2 linked regions of the Homo sapiens genome follow. The gene in region 1 interacts genetically with each later gene. Each region holds a gene or a part of one and is shown in the gene's direction. Other genes may lie near its edges.

Region 1 (3,649 bases):
TGGGAGGCCGAGGCGGGCGGATCACCTGAGGTCAGGAGTTCGAGACCAGCCTCAACATGGAGAAACCCCGTCTCTACTAAAAATACAAAAAATTATCCGGGCATGGTGGTGCATGCCTGTAATCCCAGCTACTCAGGAGGCTAAGGCAGGAGAATTGCTTGAACCTGGGAGGCGGAGGTTGCGGTGAGCCAAGATCGTGCCATTGCACCCCAGCCTGGGCAACAAGAGCGAAACTCCGTCTCAAAAAAAAAAAAGGCCAGGCGTGGTGTTTCATGCCTGTAATCCCAGCACTTTGGGAGGCCGAGGCAGACTGATCACGAGGTCAAGAGATCGATACCATCCTGGCCAACATGGTGAAACCCCGTCTCTAATAAAAATACAAAAATTAGCTGGGCGTGGTGGCACATGCCTGTAGTCCCAGCTACTCGGAAGGCTGAGGCAGGAGAATCACTTGAACTGGAAGGCAGGGAGCAGAGATCGCACCTCTGTCCTCCAGCCTGGTGACAGAGCGAGATTCCATCTAAAAAAAAAAGAAAAGAAAAGAAAGAAAAAGTGAAAGTTTTAAGTGCTATGGGGAAAGAAATCAAGTGTGATAAGGGCATCAGGAGTACGAGGGTGAAGACAGGTTGCAGCCCTAAATAGGGAGGTCAGTTATTATTGAGTAAATGAGACCAAAGGGAAGACTTGAAGGAGATGAGAGAATTAGCCATGCAGAGACCTGGGGGAAGAGAATTCCAGGAAGAAGGATCAGTCAGTGTCAAGGCCTAAGTCAAGAAGGTTAGAAGAGCTAGAAACCATCAAGGGGGAAGAGCGGCAGACATGAAGAGACTGTGTACGGACAGGAAGATCAGGTGCAGCTTTGTAGGCCATTTTTAGAATTTGAGTTGCGTTTTCCTCCGAGTGAAATGAGAAACTGCTGCAGGGTTTTGAGCAGGGGAATGACAAGCTCTTATTTATGTTTTAATAGAGCCTCCCCTCCCCTGCTGCTGCACTGAAAATAGATGGGGGGTGGGGGGAAGGGTGCCCCTGCAGTATTTCTGGCTCAGACCAGTTGGCGGCAGTGAGGTGGTGAGAAGTGGTCAGATTCTGAATGTATTTTGCAGGTAGAGCTGACAGGATTTGCTAATTGATCGGATATGGGGTATGGAGTGTGGGCGAGAAAGAAAGGAGTCAAAGGTGACAGGTGACTCTGAGGTTTTTGCCATAAGGAACTGGAACGATGCATTAGCCACTGAGCAGGAAAGACTGTGGTGGAAGGGGTTGGGGGGAGAGCAGAAGTTTGCTTGGGACATGTTGAGTCTGAGATGCTTATTAGCCATCCAAATGTGATAGAGGGGGCAGTCAGGTACACAACTCTGGGTTTGGGAGAAAGGTCTGGATTGGAGAGACATTTGGGAGTTGGCTACATATAGATGGTATCTCAAGCCATGAGACTAGTTGAGACCACCAAAGGAGTGTAGGTGAAATGACGGAGAAGAGAACAGGGTATCTAACGTTAAGGGGAGGAACAAGGAAAGGAGACTGGGAAAGAGCAGCTAGTGAGGTAGGAGTCAACCAAGAGAGGGTGCAGCCCTGGAGGTCAGGTGAAGACAGTGTGTCAAAGAAGGATGTATGTTCAGGCTGCTGATGGGCCAATAGAGGAGGACTGAGCATTGAGCATTACATGGAGCAAAAACACAGAGGTTCTTGGTGACCTTGACAAGAACAGATGCAGTGGAGAGATGGAGGCCAACGCCTGAGTGGGGTGGGTTCAAGGGAGAATGGGGGAGGGGAACTAGAGGTAGCAAGTACAGATAACTCTTGCGATGAGTTTTGCTGCAAGTGAGAGCAAATACTGGGACTGAGGGGAAACCAGGAGATTAAGAGAATTTTTTTTTAATGATGAAAGAAATAACAGTAGGTTTACCTGCGGATGGGGATGATCCAGTAAAAAAGGAAAACATGGCTGGGCACGGTGACTCACACCTGTAATCCCAGCATTTTGGGAGGGCGAGGTGGATGGATCACCTGAGGTCAAGAGTTCAAGACCAACCTGGCCAGCATGGTGAAACCCCTTCTCTACTAAAAATACAAAAAAATTAGCCAGGCGTGGTGGTGCACACCTGTAATCCCAGCTACTCAGGAGGCTGAAGCAGGATAATCACTTGAACTGGGGAGGCAGAGGTTGCAGTGAGCTGAGATGGTGCCACTGCACTCCAGCCTGGGCGACAAGAGTGAAACTCCCCCCGTCTCAAAAAAAAAGAAAGAAAAAGAAAAGGAAAACATGGGTGTCACAGAGGACCACAGAATGGCTTAATTTATGTCCTTGAGCAGGTGAGAAGGAGGAGACCTAGTGCACAAGTGGAAAGACAGATAGGGACCGAAGAATGAGCCAACCTGCTCTCGGCTAGCAGCTGCCCCATAGCAGTGCAGGCATGGGATAGAACTCAGCTCTCCTCAGTCCATGAGGCCTCCTAGCTCTAAAAGCCCGCACCCAAACGCCCTCACCTGGCTCCCAGCCCCTGCCCTACACCCCATACCCTGGGGTAGCCGGGCAAGCAGCACTTACATACCCATGCCCATACAGTGCCCATACATGCCCATACAGTGACCTCAGGCCTGGCGGAGGGCACTCCCCTCCGATTTCCACACTGCTGCCTCCCCAAGGGGATGGATGTTGGCTTGAGAGGGAAGGGGAGTCTGTGATCTGTGGGCAGGGGTTGCATCAGGGAATAAAGATCAGGTAACAGGACGCCTGTGGCGTGAGGCGTTCTGAGAATGGTAATGGGTTGGGTTTGGTTGCCTCTCATGTTCTGGGGGAACGTTGTCTGAACGTGAATCTCTGGTTCTAGGGCCAGCATCTCGCTCCGTGGAGCGCCTCAAGGAGATGATCAAGGCCGGGATGAACATTGCGCGACTCAACTTCTCCCACGGCTCCCACGAGGTGCGGGACGGGCCGCCGGGCAGTGGGTGGGGCAGGAGGATGCCTCGAGGTCCTGGCCACCTTCCCCTGAAACCCTCGCTCCGCTCCCTCCCCCAGTACCATGCTGAGTCCATCGCCAACGTCCGGGAGGCGGTGGAGAGCTTTGCAGGTTCCCCACTCAGCTACCGGCCCGTGGCCATCGCCCTGGACACCAAGGGACCGGAGATCCGCACTGGGATCCTGCAGGGGGTGAGCAGTGGGGCTGGGACTCGCTGGGCCAGGGCCGGAAAGGCGGCGCCTGTAGGGTTGGGCCCAGGCGTGGGCAGGGGCGGGTCCCGGACTCCGGGGCTCAGAACTCACATCTCCTCTGGCTCCCTCCTTAGGGTCCAGAGTCGGAAGTGGAGCTGGTGAAGGGCTCCCAGGTGCTGGTGACTGTGGACCCCGCGTTCCGGACGCGGGGGAACGCGAACACCGTGTGGGTGGACTACCCCAATATTGTCCGGGTCGTGCCGGTGGGGGGCCGCATCTACATTGACGACGGGCTCATCTCCCTAGTGGTCCAGAAAATCGGTGCGGACGCGCCTCCCGCCCTGACCACATCCGTGCGCTGGGCACATTCCCTTCTCCTTGGCTCCCCCATCAGCCCTCAGACCGATCACACCTTCCCCTGGCCACGCGTTTTTGCCAGCCCGTCCCAGGAGTCCCCAGCGTGTAGACTCTGCGCTCACCCTGGGTTTGGGCTGGACT
Region 2 (3,290 bases), on another chromosome or scaffold:
ACATGACCTGTCTACTGTCTATCTCCCCAACCAGGGGTGCTGAGGGGACCAGGTCTGGTGGGTCACGGTGCTGTCCGCCTGGGCCTCACCAGCAGAGGCCTGGCCTCTTTCCATAGCGCTGTCCCCACCCTGGGCCTGGATCTGTTTGGTTGGGGTGAAGAGGGGTGAAAGGGTCAGGCGGCAGGAGCCCTTTGGATGGTTCGGAGCCATCCCAGACTCCGGGTTGCCCCTCCCCCAGAAGATCCCGGTTGTCACCGTCCAAAAATAACCTTTCTGTGGGTATGTGTGCCAGGGCTGGGCCACACTGCCAGTGGGTATGTGTGCCAGGGCTGGGCCACACTGCCAGTGGGCAGAGCCAGGCCCTTTGGACAGTGGGGCATGACAATGACAGCTGCAGAGGGGGTTTCCTGCCCAGAGGGTTGTGCCACTCTTGGGGGGTGCCCCAGCCCGTGTCCTCTGCTGCATTCTCAACCCTATGTGGCCCCCCCAGGTGATCGGGCTGCTGGACGTATTCACTCCTGATGAGACCCTGGATGACTTCACGGACTTGTGAGTGCCGACCTGGGCTGGCCGCTGGGCACGAGGGGTGTTGGGCAGCTCTGGGCACTGGCTTCAGGTTCTAGGTTGGCAATGGGGTTCTCTTCCTGCAGCCTGAGTGGGGGATGCACACCGCCCACCCCCTCCCCATACCACTGTCCACCCCACGCCCTCCCCCACATGGTCCTGGGACCCACGGGCACTGGCACAGCTGGGCAGAGCTGGGGCTGCTGCCTCTCTCCACGCCTGGCACCTGGGCCCTCTCCAGCACCGGAGGTGTGAACCTTGGACCTGACCATTTGTTAACAGGAAGGTCCCGTGCTCGGGACCCTGGCACCAAGTGTGTGGCCGGTAACTGGAGCTGCTGACCTTTTCCAGCGGGTGGGGGAGAAGCGGTAGGGAGGACCCACCCTGCCCCTGCCCTGCAGCCGACCACCCTGGGACTCACACCCTGTCGGCCAAGAGTGAAGGGCCAGGCCGAGGAAGGCCTGGAGAGGGTAGCAGGCGCCTCCCGCCTGACTTGCAGAGGTCAAGTCAGTGGCCTCTGGGAAGGTGCTAAATACCATTCTCCTGTGTCTGTCTCCACCGGCCCAGCCGACCCCTCTGACCCAGATGCCTTGCCGCGCCCCCATCGCCCCCAGGCACCTCCCTCATTTCTGGCACAAAGTTGTGAAGTTGAAACCTGACTGCCTCCCTCCCCTGCCTGTGAAGACTCGAGTCCTGCTGCCTCTACCATGGAGCCTCAGCCCCTAGCCTGGCACGCAGGGCGCTTCAGCGGAGGGTTCAAAAACCCCAAGGCAGCCTCCTCCCTGCCTGACAGTCCTCAGGGTGGGAGGGGGGTGTGAGCGCTGCTGGCAGTAACAGTTGCGGGAGGATGGAGCCTGGCACTGCAAGGTGGGGCTGCGAGGACACCGAGGCCAGTGTGGATGTGTGCTGCAGGGGTGACCTTCCTGGGGGTGCCTGTTGGATCCGGGACGGGTCTGAGCCTGGGCCTGCTGGGTGGGTCTCTGGGATGCAGAGGCTGGCTCTGTCCGCTGACAGCGCTCCGGCCCCTCCCACAGTTACCTGGTGATGCCGTTCATGGGCACCGACCTGGGCAAGCTCATGAAACATGAGAAGCTAGGCGAGGACCGGATCCAGTTCCTCGTGTACCAGATGCTGAAGGGGCTGAGGGTACGGGCCCCGGGGGAGGCTGCAGGGAGGCAGGCAGGGCCTCGGGGCTGGGCAGAGGAGGGCCCTGTGGCTCTGAGAGGGTGCGCTGAAGCCTGCCAAATCCTCTGCCCCCCGCAGTATATCCACGCTGCCGGCATCATCCACAGAGTGAGTCCCGGTGGAGAAGCCGCTCATCAGCCCTCCCCCAGTGCAATCCCCCCGCCTCCACGTCCCACCTGTGAGGATGTGATGGGGTCTGGGTGCTGAGCCACGCCCTATGCACAGCCCCTGGTGGGAACCTGCCTGGGTGCCCAGGTACCTTGGTCTGCCCTTGAAGGGCTGCAGAGAGCAAGGGGGCCAGGTCCGGTGGCCCCATCTTTAGGTGCCACCCAGGCTCTTGGCTGTGCCCATGCTTGGGAGGGTGGGGCACAGTGGCCACCTTTCCTCTGCCCCCAGGACCTGAAGCCCGGCAACCTGGCTGTGAACGAAGACTGTGAGCTGAAGGTGTGTGCTGCCTGGCAGGGGGCCCTGAGGTGGGGCAGGGGCCCCCTCTGGATCTGCCCATCTATCCACCTGTCAGGCCTGGGCAGGGGGCCAAGGTCCCAGGCTCTGGGCAGTGGCTGAGGAGCTGGTGGGTGGGTGAGCCCAAGAGGCAGTGGTACACAACATGCCGTACCCAGGGCACCTGCTCCGTCCCGAGGGCTGCTGGGCTTGGTGCACTGGCCAGAGGGAGGAGCTCGGGGCAGTTTGGGGTCCGAGGGCGTGGCCTCAAGTCCTTGAAGGTTGTCAGGAGGCCCCAGCTTGGGAGCTTCAAGTCCAACCCCCCGGGGTCTCCTGGACCGTGGGTGGCCTGTCCGCTCCTTGGGAGTCCCCTAGAACCCACCTCCCCAATTCTTCCCACAGATCCTGGACTTCGGCCTGGCCAGGCAGGCAGACAGTGAGATGACTGGGTACGTGGTGACCCGGTGGTACCGGGCTCCCGAGGTCATCTTGAATTGGATGCGCTACACGCAGACGGGTGAGAAGCTGCCCAGAGATCTGGGCCTCTCAGGCTGCACCATCTGCTTCTCCACTTCTTCACGGACAGCCCTGTGGTGGCTGCTCCCAGGGAGGCTGTTGAGCTGGGGTGGGAGCCGGGCAGGTGGGCTGTGTTGGTGTCTCCTCCCTCCCCGTCTCATCCTGTCCCCCTGCCCACGGAGCTGACCAGGGCTTCTATCTCAGTGGACATCTGGTCTGTGGGCTGCATCATGGCGGAGATGATCACAGGCAAGACGCTGTTCAAGGGCAGCGACCGTATCCTCCAGCCGCAGGGCGGCACCAGGGGCGGGTGGGGATGGCTCCTGCCCAGGTGGGGGCAGTGGGGGCCCTGATCTCTGGCCCCCGAGCTGTGTTCCTGACCTCGGTGCAGACCTGGACCAGCTGAAGGAGATCATGAAGGTGACGGGGACGCCTCCGGCTGAGTTTGTGCAGCGGCTGCAGAGCGATGAGGTAAGGGGTGAGTGGGGAGCTGGGTGGGGGTGGGGGCGGACCTGGGCCTTGGTGTTGGCCCCTCACCCTTTCTTCCCACACAGGCCAAGAACTACATGAAGGGCCTCCCCGAA

Evidence for each region. A genetic interaction does not mean that the proteins touch.
Region 2: changes in PKLR (region 1) and MAPK12 together harm fitness more than expected from each alone (negative genetic interaction), as found in Homo sapiens cells (one large-scale study listed by BioGRID).

Annotation. Positions count from the first base shown.
Region 1 is NC_000001.11:155,294,939-155,298,587, reverse strand, and holds part of PKLR (pyruvate kinase PKLR), read left to right. Parts: intron 1-2,831; coding exon 2,832-2,923; intron 2,924-3,019; coding exon 3,020-3,151; intron 3,152-3,285; coding exon 3,286-3,472; intron 3,473-3,649. UniProt on the Homo sapiens protein: Pyruvate kinase that catalyzes the conversion of phosphoenolpyruvate to pyruvate with the synthesis of ATP, and which plays a key role in glycolysis.
Region 2 is NC_000022.11:50,255,502-50,258,791, reverse strand, and holds part of MAPK12 (mitogen-activated protein kinase 12), read left to right. Parts: intron 1-490; coding exon 491-549; intron 550-1,598; coding exon 1,599-1,710; intron 1,711-1,827; coding exon 1,828-1,857; intron 1,858-2,145; coding exon 2,146-2,193; intron 2,194-2,592; coding exon 2,593-2,707; intron 2,708-2,910; coding exon 2,911-2,982; intron 2,983-3,097; coding exon 3,098-3,177; intron 3,178-3,260; coding exon 3,261-3,290. UniProt on the Homo sapiens protein: Serine/threonine kinase which acts as an essential component of the MAP kinase signal transduction pathway.